Linked DNA regions of Homo sapiens: region 2 is linked to region 1. Evidence: fine-mapped expression QTL. Tissue or cell type: whole blood. Region 1 holds a variant in brackets; the other region holds the start of a gene. All regions are shown on one strand. Distances are between the middles of the regions.

The links. PIP is the estimated chance that this variant, and not a neighbour inherited with it, causes the effect.
Region 2: it holds the start of PHPT1, and the variant in region 1 is fine-mapped to the expression of PHPT1 in whole blood (TOPMed, PIP above 0.99).

What each region holds. Positions count from the first base shown.
Region 1 is chr9:136,930,937-136,939,274 of GRCh38, reverse strand. No RefSeq gene overlaps it. Among named protein-coding and RNA genes, the nearest start is that of FBXW5, 9.6 kb to the left of the region's middle. RefSeq lists enhancers at 605-1,217, 1,218-1,831. The variant C/T (reference allele first, on the strand shown) is at 4,331.
Region 2 is chr9:136,844,825-136,852,864 of GRCh38, reverse strand. It overlaps PHPT1 (phosphohistidine phosphatase 1), which reads right to left and starts at 3,456. Exons shown (of 3, transcript NM_014172.6): 1 at 3,275-3,456; 2 at 2,728-2,852; 3 at 1,841-2,110. The coding sequence starts at 3,434. The coding sequence ends at 2,018. It overlaps AJM1 (apical junction component 1 homolog), which reads right to left. Exons shown (of 3, transcript NM_001080482.5): 3 at 4,064-8,040. The coding sequence ends at 5,520. MAMDC4 (MAM domain containing 4) reads right to left here and starts at 519. Exons shown (of 27, transcript NM_206920.3): 1 at 403-519. The coding sequence starts at 448. RefSeq lists silencers at 3,135-3,214, 3,605-3,664, 3,845-3,924, 4,005-4,064, 4,285-4,514 and 1 more and an enhancer at 3,205-3,484.

The DNA.
Region 1 (8,338 bases):
CGGGCAGGCTCCAAAGAATTGAGCAATTTCCTGAAAAGGACTTACCTACGTTCACATTCAAGGAGACTAACAAAAACATTCCTATGCACCATAAAACAAAAGTGGGGACAGAAATCAAGAGGACTTGGACATTTCAAAATAAAAAGGGAGCCAATTAGACACTGGAAAATGACAGGGCGAGTGACTGCATCAAAAGCTTGATACGTAGGCCGGGCGCGGTGGCTCACGCCTGTAATCCCAGTACTTTGGGAGGCCGAGGTGGGCAGATCACGAGGTCAGATCGAGGCCATCCTGGCTAACAAGGTGAAACCCTGTCTCTACTAAAAATACAAAAAATTAGCCGGGCGCGGTGGCGGACGCCTGTAGTCTCAGCTACTCGAGAGACTGAGGTAGGAGAATGGCGTGAACCTGGGAGGCGGAGCTTGCAGTGAGCCGAGATTGCACCACTGCACTCCAGCCTGGGCGACAGAACAAGACTCTGTCTCAAAAAAGGAAAAGAAAAAAAAAAAAATCTTGATATGTGGAAAGTGCTGGACCAGACAGACTCGACGAGAGGACCAGGCAGCAGAAGATGGCACAGAGGAGACGAAAGAAACACAGCCCTGGGAGGGGAATGGAGCGGCATGCATGCCCCCACCCCATCTACGGGGCAGGGGTGGAGACCCAGTGTTTAAAGAGAAAGTGACTGAATTAGCAAAAGAACAGAAGTCCTCAGAAAACATATGCTGAGGTCAGGCCGGGCGTGGTGGTTCATGCCTGTAATCCTAGCACTTTGGGAGGCCGAGGCGGATCACTTGAGGTCAGGAGATCAAGACCAGCCTGGCCAACACGGTGAAACCCCTTTTGTACTTAAAAAAAAAAAAAAAAAAAATTAGCCGAGCGTGGTGGCACACACCTCTAATCCCAGCTACTCAGGGGACTGAGGCAGGAGAATTCATTGAACCCGGGAATGAGCTGAGATTGCGCCACTGCACTCCAGCCTGGGCGACAGAGTGAACTCTGTGAAACTGCAGCTATGAAACTTGTGCACGGGGCCTGGAGCAGCTGCCAGAGAGCTGGGTCAGGGAGCAGCAGCAAGATCCCAAGTTTCGCAGAACTGGTGCTTGACCTAACATCCATGACCTGAACTCCACGCAGCCGCAACACCGGACGTGAGTGCTGGGGCCAGGCAGAAAGCCCAGAGCAGCCCTAAGGGCCAGGGAAAGGAACCCACGCCGATGCGCAGGGTCAGTGAGGCAATGCCCTGGGTTTACCCTCTTCTCCATTCTTTTGTGACCCTGATGGCAGTGGGAGTGGTGGCTACAGGAACCCATCAGAGCCAAACTTGGGGCCAGAAAGTCCCTCACAGCTCAGTGCGGCTGTATTGAGGGTGGGACCACCCCCATTAGCTTTCCTCCCCTGTCCTCCTGCCACATAGACTCCAACGCGGCCCAGTCAAGGGCATGTCACTGTCTGAACTGACAGTGAGTGAGCCCAGCAACCAAACCCAGCGTGGGGAGCTTGGGAAGCACCCACATGGGGTGGCTGTGGATGCCGGGCTCAGCTCACATGCAGACACATGGGTCTAATGATCACACCATGGACGTGGGGAACTGCAGACCAGCCTTGGGTCCCAGACCAAAGACCAGCAGCTCTGAAGACAGGAGTCCACGCAGGTGGGAGCAGTGTGGGCCCAACCCTCACAGGACCAAGTGCCTGCTAACCAAAGACACCCACGCAGGTGGGAGCAGTGTGGGCCTGACCATCCCAGGACCAAGTGCCTGCTAACCAAAGATACTCATGCGGGCAGGAACAATGTGGGCCCAACCTTCACAGGACCAAGTGCCTGCTAACCAGACTTCAACATTTCCCACAGGATTCAAACATGACCCAGATCTCATAAAGTCATATTCAAAATGTCTAGAATATAGCCCAAAATTGCTTGACACACGAAGAACCACAACATTTCAACTTGCAGCTGGGCACCGCGGCTCACACCTGAAACCCTAGTTCCCTGGGAGGCCACGGCTGCAGGGAGCAATCACCGGGCCGCTGCACTCCAGCCTGGGTGACAGAGACCCTGTTTCTAAAAAATAAAAATAAAAAATAAAAGATTCAATGTGCAAAGGTAAAGACCCATAAATTCTATTTCCCAAAAACAATTAGTAGCTTTTTTAAAAAACCACACAACAAATTTTTATTATTTTTTAATTTTTGTAGAAATGAGGTCTATGTTGCCCAGGCTGGTCTCAAACTCCTGGGCTCAAGTAATCTTCCAGCCTCGGCCTCCAGAAGTGCTGGGATTACAGGCGTGAGCCACCGCACCGGCCAACACAATTCTTAAAAGGCACTGGGATTCCTCTGCTTCAAGATCATTACTAGGCTAGAAAAATAAAGCTTGTTCTACCAGAAATCACAAGTAAGAACTGAGTGTTCTCCAAGGCAGAAATTGTAGAGTCTAGTGCCATTTCAGGCAACGATGACTAAGCTCTGAACCCCAACATCCACAGCTGCCCATCAGAACACTTAAACCAGCTCGGAACAGACCAGCACAATTCGGCTTCATCAGACAAGGCCACCGTGCTCTTCTAAGATGCTAATAACCCCAAACAGGAGGTGCTGAAACCAAATGAAAGACAGTCTTTGAGGCTAGCTGCCACACCAACTGTGAGTTCCTTGTTATGTCCCCCTTCTATAACATTAATCAAGGAAATATTTTACTGCAAAGAGTATTTTATATGCCACTAGCCATGAATTTTTGTCATTAGTTACTACATAAATGTCACCTAGTGCCTGCCATTATCCACATGGCACAACCATTTTATGTCTACAATTCACTTCTGTATTTACAAACAGAATCTTTGTGATTCCCATAAGTACATTAGCAAAGGTTTAACATCGAGATGCAATCTAACATCCATAACCTCCATTGTTTTGCAGACAGCAATGTAGGAGAGAGAGATTTTTTTTTTTTTTTTTTTTTTTTGAGACAGAGTCTTGCTCTGTCGCCCAGGCTGGAGTGCAGTGGCGCGATCTCAGCTCACTGCAGGCTCTGCCTACCAGGTTCATGCCATTCTCCTGCCCCAGCCTCCCGAGTAGCTGGGACTACAGGCGCCCGCCACCATGCCCGGCTAATTTTTTTGTATTATTTTAGTGGAGACGGGGTTTCACTGTGTTGGCCAGGATGGTCTCGATCTCCTGACCTCGTGATCCGCCCGCCTCGGCCTCCCAAAGTGCTGGGATTCCAGGCATGAGCCACCATGCCCGGCTGAGGATTGTGTTCTTTAAAACAGTTTTATTTGGATTTACAAAATCTGAACACCTTACAATCATTGCAGATGAACATTATGCCATGGCCCCAGGTAGATGCACCCTGAACAAAAACTCACACTTCCCGATATGCAGGGGGAACCTGCAAGTCCTCACCAACCAAACGCCAGGCTTGGGAGGAAGTGACACAGACACAGATGCTGAAATTATCTGACAAGGGCTTTAAAGTAGCTACTATAAATATGCCAGAGCAAGCAATCACAAACATTTTGCAATGGATGTAAAAATATGAAAGTCTCAGCAAAAAAATAGAAGATGTAAAAAGGACCATTCATACCAAGATTAGGTATCTATAAAAAGAGAAGGAAAAAGGCTGGGCACGGTGGCTTACGCCTGTAACCCTAACATTTTGGGAGGCCAAGGCGGGCAGATCACCTGAGGTCAGGAGTTCAAGACCAGCCTGGCCAACATGGTAAAATCCCGTCTCTACTAAAAATACAAAAAAAAAAAGGCCGTGTGCGGTGGCTCACGCTTGTTAATCCCAGCACTTTGGGAGGCCGAGGTGGGCAGATCACAAGGTCAGGAGGATCGAGACCAAGTTCCAGCTACTCGGGAGGCTGAGGCAGAATGGCGTGAACCCAGGAGGCGGAGCTTGCAGTGAGCCGAGATCGCGCCACTGCACTCCAGCCTGGGCGACAGAGCAAGACTCCATCTCAAAAAAAAAAAAAAAAAAAAAGACAGGTTCTCACTCTGTTGCCCAGCCTTGAGTCACCAGTACAGTCATGACTTACTGCAGCTTCGACCTTCAGGCTCAAGTGATCCTCCCACCTCAGCCTCTCAAGTAGCTGGGACCACAGGCATGCACCACCACACCCAGCTAATTTTTATATTTTTTGTAGAGATGGGGTTTTGCCATGTTGTCCAGGCTGGTTTTGAACTCCTAGGCTGAAGTGATCCGCCTGCCTCGGCTTCCGTAAGTGCTGGGATTACGGCGTGAGCCACCATACTGGGCTGCAGCCTCTTTTTAAGGGCACGAATCCCATCCACAAGTGTTGCACCCTCATGATCTAAAAAGTCCTGC[C/T]TCCAAGTACCATCACATTGGAGATTATGTTTCAACACAGGAAATTGGGTGGGGGGGGCACAAACATTGTCTTCTCTTAGTCTGTTTTTGCTGCTATAACCGAATACCTGAGACCAGATAATTTATAAGGAATAGAAATTTATTGGCTCACAGTTCTGGGGGCTGGGAAGTCCCAGAGTAAGGTGCCAGCGTCTGGTGCAATCCTTCTTGTTGTGTCACTGTGGAAGGTGGAAGGGCAAGAGAGGGCCAAGCTCATCTTATTATACCAGCACCAATTCCAGCCTATCTTCCCTCTGACCTAATCACCCTTTAAGGATCCCACCTCTTAACACTGTTACAATGACAATTAAATATTAACATGAGTTTGGGAGATAAAAACATTCAAACCGTAGCATTCCATCCCTGCCCCTACACCAATTCATGTTCTTTTCACATACAAAATATACTCATTCCATCCCAATGGCCCCATTCAAAAGTCCAAAGCCCAGAGTCTCGTCTAAATCAAACATGGGTGAGACTCAAGGCATGATTCATCCTGAGGCAACTTTCCCTCCACTATGAGCCTGTGAAATTAAACAAGTTACGTGCTTCCAAAATACAATGGTAGGGCAGGCATAGAACAGACATTTCCATTCCAAAGGGATAAATTATAAAGAGGAAAGGAATAACAGGCCTCAAAAGCATGTCCAAAGTCCAACAGGGAGAATACTACTAAATCCTAAGGCTTGAGAATCATCATCTTTGACTCCAAATCCTGCCTTCTGCACGCCGTGGGGTGCGGCTGGGTCCTCAGGCTCTTGGGAACCTCACCCCTAGAGCTTTGCTGGGCTCAGACCTCACACAACTCTCTTAGGTTGGAGTCTCGTGCCTTCAGCTCTCCCAGGCTGGCAATGAACACTAGAGGCTCTCCAGTTCTGGGGTCTCAGGGGTGGCCTTATCCCCAAGGCTCTACCACATATTGCCCTAGTGTGGGCTCTCTGCCATGGCTCTGGCCTGGAGACTTGTGACATCCTGTGTGACACCCAGTGGATGAAGCCATGTCCCCACAGCTCCTGCAAGGCTGCAGAATCGACACCACCAAGGCTTATGACTTGTACCTTCCCTGGGTCCACATGAGACAGGCTGGAGTGGCTTAGGGGGTCTGCACTGGAATGCAGACAGCCAAGACTTGGGGTGGCCCTGGCCAGCAGGCTCTAAGGTCCACACCCTACACCTCTCTTTTGACATATTTCCTTCCCAAAGGCCTTGGCACTCTGGGCCTGTGGTGGGAGGGGCAGCACCAGGAATCTGAAATGCCTCTGGGGCCATTTTCCCACTGTCCTGATGAGCAGCCTCTGGCTTCGTTCTGTCCATACTAAGTTGCTTGGCCACACACTTGGTCTGTTCTCCTAAAGACATCTTATTTACTCCCTAAATGGGCAGGCTGAAAATCCTTACGATCCCTATTCTTTCCTTGTTAATTATAAATTCCATCTTTAATTCATTTCTCTTCTCACATCTTACTCTCTGCAGTTAGAAGAAAACATGCCACACCCTGAGTATTTCTTCAGCCAGATATCCCAGTTCCTTCCACAAAGGAAGGACTGGGCATGGACACCGTTCAGCCACGTTCTCTGCCACTTTATAACTAGGATGGTCATTCCTCCAGTTTCTGACACCTTGTTCTTCATTTCTGTCTGAGATCTTACCAGAATGGCCTTCACTGTCCAGATTTCTACCAACATTCTGACCATGACCACTTTAAGTATTCTCAAAGAAGCTTCAGACTTTCCCTACAGTTCTCTTCTGAGCCCTCAACAAAATCACCCTTTACACTCCATGAATGGCATCTAAGCTTCTTCTCGCTCCTCCAAACTCTTCTGGCCTCTGCCTACTACCCAGTTCCAAAGCTGCTTCCACATTTTTCGAGCATTTGTGATGACAACAAACCCACTCCTGGTCTCGATTTTCTGCCCACAGCACCCTGATACCAAAAACCAGACAAAGACAATACAAAAGACAATTATAGACAAATGTCCTTCATGAACAGAGATGCAAAATCCTCAAAAAAAATTTAAATCAAATCCAGCAATATATAAAAGTGATAGTGCACCATAACCAGGTAGGGTTTATTCCAGGAATGCAAGGTTGGTCCAATATTTGAAGATCAACATAAGTCACCATATTAACTGTACAGGAGAAAAACCACATGAACATATCACTTGGTATAGAAAAAGCATCTTTTTTTTTTTTTTTTTGGAAGACAGTTTCCTTGTTGCCCAGGTTAGAGTGCAATGGCACGATCTCAGCTCACTGTCACCTCCGTCTCCCAGTTCAAGCAATTCTCCTGCCTCAGCCTCCCAAGTAGCTGGGATTACAGGAGTGCACCACCATGCCCAGCTAATTTTTGTTTTTAATAGAGATGGGTTTTCACCATGTTGGCCAAGCTGGTCTCAAACTCCTGACCTAAGGTGATCCGCCTGCCTCGGCCTCCCAAAGTGCTGGGATTATAGGCATGAGCCACCAAACCCAGCCATTGAAAAACATCTTGATAAAATGTCTAGTCATGATAAAAAAAAAAAAAAAAAACCCTAGAAGCAAACTAGAAGTAGAAGGGAACTTGCTCAACCTGATAAAACAGCATCACCAAAAATCCCCGTGGGTAACATGATACATAATTGTGAAAGCAAGAAAGCTTTCCCCAAGAGTGGGAATGAGGAAAGGCTATAGACTCTTACCATTACTATTCAACCTTATAAACGGGAAGTCAGCCAATGGAACAAGGCAAGCAAAAGAAATAAAAGGCATAGAGATTGAATAAAAAGAAATAAAACTGTCCTTATTAATGGATGACATATTGTTCACACATAAAATCCCCCCAAATCTATAAAAACAAACAAAATCCTAATCTCCTACAACCAGTAAGTGAATTCATCAAGGTTATGAGGTATAAGAACAACACATAAAAATCAGTTTTGTTTTTAAACACTGGAAATATACAGTCAGAAACCAAAATTCAAAAAACAACCTCTTACAACAGCTCAAGAAACAAAGTAAGCTGTGGGATAGGAAGCAATAAATAAGTAAAAGAAACACTGAAGCATAAACCTACTAAAACATGTACAAGATATGTATACTGGCTGGGTGTGGTGACTTTTATGCCCATAATCCCAGCACTTTGGAAGGCAGAGGTGGGTGAATCACTTGAGTCCAGGACACCAGCCCAGGCAACATGGCAAAACCCTATCTCTACAAAAAATACAAAAATTAGCCGGGCGTGGTGGCACACACTTGTAGTCCCAGCTACTTAGGAGGCTGAGGTGGGAAGATCCATTGAGCCCAGGAGGTCAAAGCCACAGTGAGCTGCGATCATGCCACTGCATTCCAGCCAGTTCAACATACATATGAAATACTACAAAACGCTGATAAAGAATAGAGATAGACTATGTTCATGGATTGTCTGACTCAACACAGATGTCAATTCTCCCCAAACTGATGTGTAGACTTAACGCAATTCCAATCAAAATCCCAGAATTTTTTTGTAGTTGACTGTGAAATATATATGTACTGTCAAACAAACAAAAATAGGGAAAACAATTCTGAAAAACAACAACTGGCTGGGCGTGGTGGCTAATGCCTGTAATCCCATCACTTTGGGAAGCTGAGGCAGGCGGATCACTTGAGCCCAGGAGTTTCAGGCCAGCCTGGACAACAGAGAGACCCTGTCTCCGGCTGGGTGCAGTGGCTCATGCCTGTAATCCCAGCACTCTGGGAGGTCGAGGTAGGCAGATCTGAGGTCAGAAGATCGAGACCATACTGGCCAACATGGTGAAACCCCGACTCTACTAAAAATACAAAAAAATTACCTGGGTGTGGTGGCATGCACCTGTAATCCCAAATACTTGGAAGGCTGGGGCAGGAGAATCGCTTGAACCAAGGAGTCAGAGGTTGCAGTGAGCCAAGATGGGTCACTGTACTCCAGTCTGGTGACAGAGCGAGAGTCTGTCTCAAAAAAAAAAAAAAAAAAAA
Region 2 (8,040 bases), 86 kb after region 1:
CACCCCAAGAAAGGTAGCAGGAACCCAGAGTGCCCAGCAGGGAACTGGGCACTGGGAGGGCGACCCCCAATGGGAGGCATCGACGGGCGGCCCAGGGCCTCCACAAGCTCCACCCAGTCCAAGGGTGGCAGATGAAGGCTGGCAGAGCTGGGGGCACCTCCTGAGCCCTCTTGTCCCAGACTGGGAGGGGAGTCGTGCCTCTTCCTTTGCTTGGCAGGCCCGAGGACCCCATGGGCTGATTCCAGGTCACCCCCCTTGCAGGCCGGCCAAGGTAGTACCTTGCAACCCTCCTTCCCTTTGGGGCTCAGGCATCAGCCCTGGTGTCCGTCACTGCCACACAGATGGTAGGCTCAGAAGCCAGGGCCCCTGGTCCTGCCTCAGGAGTGGGACCAGACTACTTACCCAGGAACAGGACCAAGGCGGGCAGCAGGTGGCTGGACAGAGGCATGGTTGGGCCAGAGGGAGCAGTGCGGCCACACAGGGTGCCTGGGAAGTTCCGTGCGGTTATCAGCCTGCGCTGGCCCCGCACGCTGACTCTGCTGTTAAGTGGAGGGCCCCTCGGCCCGGCCCCACCCAGTGCTGACGGTGCCAAGCATGGGCCGTGAAAGTGGCCCCAGGAGGGGGCCTCTGACCCAGGGTCAGCTCCCACCTGCCCGGCTCCCTCAGACACAAGGTCAGGCTCTTCCACCCTGCCCTGCCCTGCCTGGTGAAGGGGAGGCTCCCACTGGAATGGGGAGGGACCCAGGCACCCCACCAGGACTCTGCTCGGCAGTGTGGGGCGGGCAGAGGCCGCCGTGGCCTCTCACTGTGCCTCTGGCAATAGCGTGGTGCTGGCCAAGGTCAGGACTCAACCAGTCCAGCAGCTGCAGGAGTCCAGCACGTGCACCAGAGCTGGTCCCTGCGTTCTCAGCCGTGGGGAACCTGCCTTTAAGTCAGGCTGTGGAGGATCACGCCGTCATTCATTCGTCCTGAGCAGCCAGGTGCTGTCCGGTGCCAGATACAGGGTCCCTAGGAGCCCAGAAACTTCGGTTTCTCATGGAGCAGACTCATGCTTGGGGCAGGGTCTTTGGGGCTGGGGAAGGAGTGTGGCATTTGGGGCCAGGCCCTGTTTGTGATTTCCCATGGTGTGACCTCGGAGCTTGTGTCACTGAGCCTCAGTGTCCCGGTCTGTAAAATGTGGTTATGACAGTGCCCGTCTGGAGAGGCTGGCCGGAGGACCAGTGAGCTGACAAAGGTGGGGGTGCCCTGTGTACAACCAGCCCTGGCCCCCAGGGTGCCCCTGCACCACCCCATGGAGTCCCACTGTGTATGGGGCTTCCCAGGGCAAGGCCTGAACCCGTGTCCTGCCCACAGCCCTGCCGGGTGCAAGAGGGACCTGGGAGGGGCCTCCAGAGTCAACGTGAGCCTGTGGGGTAGATGCAGCTGTGCGACCTGACCCTGGATACTGGTAGGCCCCATGGGGCTGGTCATGGAAGGAGCCTGCAGGTCACGGAAGGAGCCTCAGGGCAGACAGGACACTGGGGAGCCCTGGGATGGGCTCATAGGAGGGAGCACTGGTGGGCGCCCCAGGTCTTGGCCAGCCCGAGGGACCAGGCCCTGACTCCTCTCGCAAGGGCTTGCCAGACCTCCTCCAAGATGCCCTGGAGGACGATGGCCGTGGGAAGAGCAGTCAGGCCATCAGCGGGCCCCTTTATCAGACCCCAAAGGGCTGAGTGTGCACCGCCACTCCCTGGGGCCACTCCTGTGTTCCCCCACCCACCTGCTTTAGTTAGGGTCTGGGGGCCCCCGGAGGTGGTGACGCAGGGTGCAGGAAGCCAAGGACAGAGTTCAGAAGCCGGCAGGTGTGGCAACACGTTTAATTCTGTGGCCAGGCTAGCCTGTCTCCAAGGCCTGGTGGACAGCACGTCACCAGAGGCTGCCGCAGGAGCAGGCAGGGCCAGCCCTGCAAGAGGAGTGCAGGCAAAGGCGGGGGCTCTGAAGTGGCTGCTGGAGGCAGCAGGCCCCGGGCTGGGAGTGCTCAGTAGCCGTCGTTAGCCCAGGTGACCTCGTAGTCGGGGTACTTGGCTTTGATTTTCTCAGTTGAAATGGCGTGCTGGGCAGGACCATAGGCCTGGAGAAGAGAAGACGCCTGCTGGCACTACCTGGACCCTTCAACCCGATACCCGGCTCTGGGCATCCAGCCACCAGCCACACCAGAAGCGAGTGTGGGAAAGGGATAGGCAGTGCCTGGGGATGCCAAACCCACCATCCCGACCGCCCTTGGGGGCTCCCCTGGGGAGAGGCGACCTCCACAGGCAAGCAAACCTTGATGGTGGATCCTGGGGCCTGAGGCGCCCAGAGGGACGCACGTGGGTCTCATCTGCTGGTGGTTTTTGTGAAGAGCACAGGTGGGGACTCTGAGCTCCACCCAGGTACTGACTGCCTCTGGGGGCCCAGGGCCCAAAGTGCTGGAGGACAGCTAGAGCCCAGCAAGGCCTCCCAAGGCAGGGAGAGGAGACAGCCGGCCATGTCTGGGGGTGTCCGTCCCACCCCTCAGGTCTGGCGTGTGCTCCATGGGGGAATGCAGGAACACAATGGGCCCTGGAGGGAGGGCTCTGCCGCCGACCCTGGGAGAACCCCAGGAAGCCTGCGTGCTCAGCTGGGGCCACGGGTCAGGGCAGCAGGCTCAGGTGGGCCTCGAAGCTGGTACTGGGGCCTCCGGCAGGGCGGGACGGGGCTGCGGCTCACCATGGAATAGCCGTACACGTGAATCTTCTTGTCCTGACTCTGGTGGGAGATGCGCCCGCCGCCCAGACACTCACAGTCGCAGCCTTGCTTCTGCATGTCGCCCGACACTTTGTCGTAGATGTCCGCTGGGATGGGAGGGCGGCCTCAGGACGTGCCCTGGCCGCCCTTGGAGGCCGCGGGAGGAACTCCCAGCCGAAGGGGTCTGAAATCCCAGCTCTGAACAGCCCCTTCCCCAGGAGAGACGAAGCCCCTTGAGGCTGGGACAGGGATGAATGAGCGAAGGAGGGTGGAACCGGGGAGGGCGCGGGAACTGGGAGACTGCTGGGGAGGGTGTCAGGCCGTGTCACGCCCTTCCCGCCCAGGACCTCAGCCTGGGTCAAACCTAGCAGGGGCAGGACTCGGAGCAGAGCGCAGTCCGCTACGGCCCGCAGCCCCGCCCCCGCCCCGCCAGCCCCGCCCCTGCCTCGTCAGCCCCGTCTCCGTCCCGCCAGCCCCGCCCCCGCCTCGCCAGGCGTGCCCCTGGCATGCCCGCAGGTCCCGCCCTCACCATGGTACTCAGCCCACTTGTAGCCGCGCACGATCTCCTTGCTCTCTGCAGCCGGAGCCCCGGAGCGGGGAGCCGAGTGGACTCGGATCAGCACATACTTGAAGACGCCGTCGGAGTCGATGTCCACATCAGGAATGAGAGCGAGGTCCGCCACCGCCATGTTCCTCCTCCCGGAGTCCCCTCCTCCCACCCGACCCGGGGGCCGCTTGTACTGCGGGAGGCGGGCTCTGCGAGAGCGACGACCAATCCCGTCGGGGAATGCTTCCCAAGGCCCAGCGCCTCAGCCAATTGTACCGCCGACCGAGGCACGTGCTGACCAATCGCAATCCAGTTCCTTGCCGCCTTGCGGCTCCGCCAGCCCCGCTTAAAGGAAACGTGGAATCGGGAATGGGTGGTGATGAAATCCAGCCAACGGAGAAGTTCCTCTCCAGCGGGGTCCGGTGGCACCCTTGGAACGGGGCAGTTAGGCGGCCCGCGAGGCTGGGGCAACGAGGGAGGCCTGAGGGACTTGCCAGCCCTGACCTCCTGTCCCGCACGTAGTCCGAAGACCACCCTCCCCGTGGCCCCCACCGCCCAAAGGCCTCCCTCTCTCCCCCTCCCACCGCCCGAAGGCCTCCCCCCTCCCCGCTCTCCACCGCCCGAAGGCCTCGCTCTCCACCCCCTCCACCGCCCGAAGGACTCCCTCTCTTCCCCGTCCACCGCCCGAAGGCCTCTCCCTTTCTCCTCTCCACCGACCGAAGGCTTCCGTCCCCAACCCCGCTACCGGTACAAGGAGGCAACGGCAGCCGCTACATTCAAGTTCTATTTTACTTGGTTCGAAAGCTCTTGCCCCCTGGAAATTATTCCGGTCCAGGGGCGTTCCCGGCCGGCCCTCAGGGGTGGGGCCGAATGCAGAGGCCCTGGGGTAGGGGGCGCGGGGCGCGGCGGCGGGTGGGCAAGCGGGACGCCTGGCCGGTGCAGACGCGCGGGGACGAGATGGGCGTGCCGGGTGCGAAAGCAGGAGCGGAGGCGGGGGTGCCCAATTTCTCTCACTTGGTGCCCCCTCCCCTGGCTCCGAAGTAGGGCTGGGGACTCCAGGAGGGCCCTTGCGTTTGGCCTCCACCCCTCTCCCGCATACCCCACCCTCCAGAGAGCTCTGGGCGCGGACCAGGGTGCACTTGGGGGACAGGTGGAGGCCGGGCCGCCGGGCTTGCGCCTCCACGCCCGCAGTACGGCGTGCGGCCAGAGCGGGTGTGCGGGGACCTCTCGGGACAGGTCAAGCCCCCTCGGGTGGGCTTCCACGCTTACCAACTAGCTCTCTCCCTCACCTGCTCGCACCACGCTTTGCCCTCCAGGCTCCCACCTGGGAACGCCCCGTCCCTTGGTCCTTCCTCTCCTAGCCAGGTGTCAGCTCTGGCCAGGCCCAGGTGCTCTGCTTCCCCTGTTCAGGTCCCCTGCCCCTTCGGCTGGGAGACTTGCATATCGGCCTGAAGACCTCCCTGCGGTTTTTCCCAGCTCCTGCAGGGCCCAGACTGCAGCGGCTGGAGGCGAAGGGACGGCAGGGCGCGTGGCGTGGTTAGTGTGCTGGCTCCGACCAGCGGGAACGCACTGCGCACCGTCCGCCCTGCCCACCGCCTCGGCGGGACGCGCTCGCGCACACGGACGCACAGAGGTCGACCAGGGTGTTCTCCAGCGAGGAGGCAACACAGCCGCGGGAGGCGGGGCGGGGCGTGTTTAAAGTGACAGACTGGGCTTTGGTTACGTCGGGCTTCTGGACGAGGGGAAACCGGAGTCGGGGAGGCTCCAGCGAGAGCCCCGCGGACCGACGGGGACCGGATCTCTACGGGTGGGGTCTGTGCAGTAGTGACCCCTCCGAGTGAAGGCAGAGCTCGGCGGTCCTCAGGCCCACCCCGCCTCCCAGCGGGGAGCACCGAGGGCGAGGACCGACTTCTTCTGGGGATCCTCGAGGGCGAGCTGGGAGAGGGAGGAGGCCCGGAGGAGGGAGAGGGGTTGCTGGGGGTGGGAAGGCGAAGGGCCTGTGAGGAACACTACGGGGACGAAGGGCCGGGGGGTGGGGGCCTGGGCGGAGCTGGAGGCCGAACTGAGCGGAGCTTGGAAGGCTGGGGAATTAGAGGCGGGGCCTAGAAGAAGTCGGGGTGGGGCCCTGGCGGGGCTCGGGGGCGGCCCTGGGTGGGCCGGGCGGGGCCTGAGTGGGCAGGGCAGGGTTCGGGCCAGCGCCTGGGCTAGGCCTGGTGGGCCCGGCGCCTCACATGATGTCGTCCAGCAGGTTGGCGCTGGCCACCCAGTCGAGCGCGCGCGGCTCGGAGGCGGCCATGATCATGCACATGAAGGGGCGGCCGGTGCGCCGGTCCGTGGGGTAGATGGTGGTGGGCGTGAAGCGCCTGTTGGCCTCGACGAACTCGCAAAGCTGCTCGTAGACGCGCGGGAACTCGTGGCGCAGGAAGACGCCGCGCAGCCGCAGCTCGCGCTGGATGTGGATGAAGGCCACCTCGCGCGCGCGCCGGCCCGCCTCGCCGTCCTGATCCAGGCCCGCCGTGCCCGGCGGTGGCGTCAGGATCAGCGTCTCCATGTCGGGCTCGCGGCTCCGCGCCGGGGGCGGCCGCGCGGGGCTGCCGGCCGCCAGCGCTACCTTGGCGAACTTGCGCACTGTTGGCCCGTGGCTGCGTGGCGCGGGCGCGGGCAGGGCCGGTGTCCCCGGTGGCGCGGTGCCGGGTCCCACGGCCACGGACACGCTGAGCAGGAAGCACTCTGCCGGTTCGTAGAGGCGCCCAGCGGCCGCCAGCTCGCGCGCGTAGCTGCCCAGGGGCGCCGCGTGTGTGGCCAGCTCACGCAGCGATAGGTAGGTGGGGGATAGCAGCAGCCCCTCCAGGCCAAAGCGCAGGAAGTTGTCGGCCGAGCCTGGACTTGGGAAGCCCAGGAAGAGCACGCCGCGGCCGCGCGACAGGAAGCCGACACGCGCGATGCGCGAGAAAGCGCGGTGCACCGGGCCGCTGTCGCGGCAAAACTGCAGTACGTGGCGGCACACGCTGCCCACGCGGCCGTACACGCAGCGCGCCTTGTGGGCGTCCCAGTCCTCGCGGCGGCACAGGCGCGAGCAGTAGTAGGTGTAGCAGCTGTGGCAGGACTTGAAGTAGAGGCAGGCGTTGAACATGGTCTCGGTGCGCCGGCAGCGCGCATTGGAGCAGGTCATCAGGTCGTCCTCGTCGGCGCTGGGTTCGGGGGACGCGTCGGCCGCCTCTCCCGGGGCCGCGGGCTCCTCGGCGCTGCCGGCCGAGGCGGGGGGCGAGCGTGGCGGCGCCAGCGCGGGGGCCCCGGAGCCCGCGGGCCGCGAGTCCAGCAGTCGGCGCAGTTGGGGGCCCAGGCAGTCGGCCGCGGGCTCTGAGGCCTGGCCGGCGGTGGGTCGCGAGTCGATGACCAGGTCCGTGATGAGCTCGTCCAGCTGCTCTAGGCTCCGCTGGCGGCCAGAGGTGGGGCCGTCGGGGGCCGCGTGGGGAGGTGGCCGCGTGCGGCCCCCGGGCAACTCCCAGGCCCTGGCGCTCGGGCGCTCGGTGGCGCGCAGGTCATTGTCAGTGATGGTGATCTCGGGCGTCACGTACCAGTTGCGGCCCAGGCCCTCGCCCGCGCGGCCCTTCTCCGTCAGCGACGTCTCGGACAGGGACAGTGCGGCGTAGCGTCTGGGAGAGGTGGACAGGTTCACGACGACGGGCGGGCGCCGGCCTTCGGGGGACACGCCTCGCGGCTCCCGCACCTCGCGCCCCAGCAGGTTCTCGTAGCTGCGGCCGCGGCCCAACGGGTCTTCTCGGCGCGGCCCCGGGGCCAGAATGTTGTCCCAGGAGCGCGAGTAGTGGCGGCTGTCGGTGGCCAGCCGGGGCGGACTGGTGCCGGTGCCGCCGTGCCAGGAGGCGAGCAACGGGTCGGGGTCAGAGGGCGGCACCACTTGCAGGGTGCGGTACGGTCGCGGGCCCCAGTCCGCCCAGGCCGGGCTGCTGCGCGGGTGCGGGTACGTCCGAGCCAGGACGTCACGCTCGCGGTACCTTCCGAAGTCCTCCGTGTAAAAGGGGCGGGCGGTGGAGTGGGCCCGGGGCTCCTCGGGGACATAGCGGGGCCCGTAGGGCAGGCCGTAGGCTCGTGGAGCCTCCCCATAGTAGGAGCGGGAGGGCGGTTCCTGGATTGGGAAGGTGCGCACCTCTCCTGCGTAGTAGCCGCCCATGCGCCTTGGACTGGGCCCCGAGAGCTCCTCGGACGGATAGGGCCTGGGGTAGTAGGCGTCGAAGGTTGGGCCGGGACTGGCTGCAAAGCTGCCCCGGAAGCCTTGGGGCTCCTCTGTATAGAAGAACTGGGTGGGGCCCGGCGGGGTGGTGAAGGGCAGACTGCGGCGCTCGGCGTAGTCCCGGGGCCCAGGCAGGGGCCCGTCGCAGTAGAACGCCCGGGGATCCGCACAGTATGAGTCGCTGGGCGTCGGGGTGCGCGACAGCGCCATGTGGCGGGGCCCGGGCACCGTGAGGCCGTGGAACTGCGGGGCGGGGCGGGCCCAGTGCGCGGCCTCGGTGGGCCCGCAGGACCGCGAGCCCCGGGTGGCGTGCTGGAGCACTGCGTCGTCTGGCTTGATGTCCAGGCGGCAGCGCACGTGGGGGGCGGGACCCGCGGGTGGCTCGGGCGGTGCGCAGCGGCCCGCGGCGGCGCACAGGGGCGCGACGCGGCCGGGGCCGCCCCGCTGCGGCTGCAACTTGATGGGATGCAGCTCGTTGGCAAGGGCGCGGAGCGCC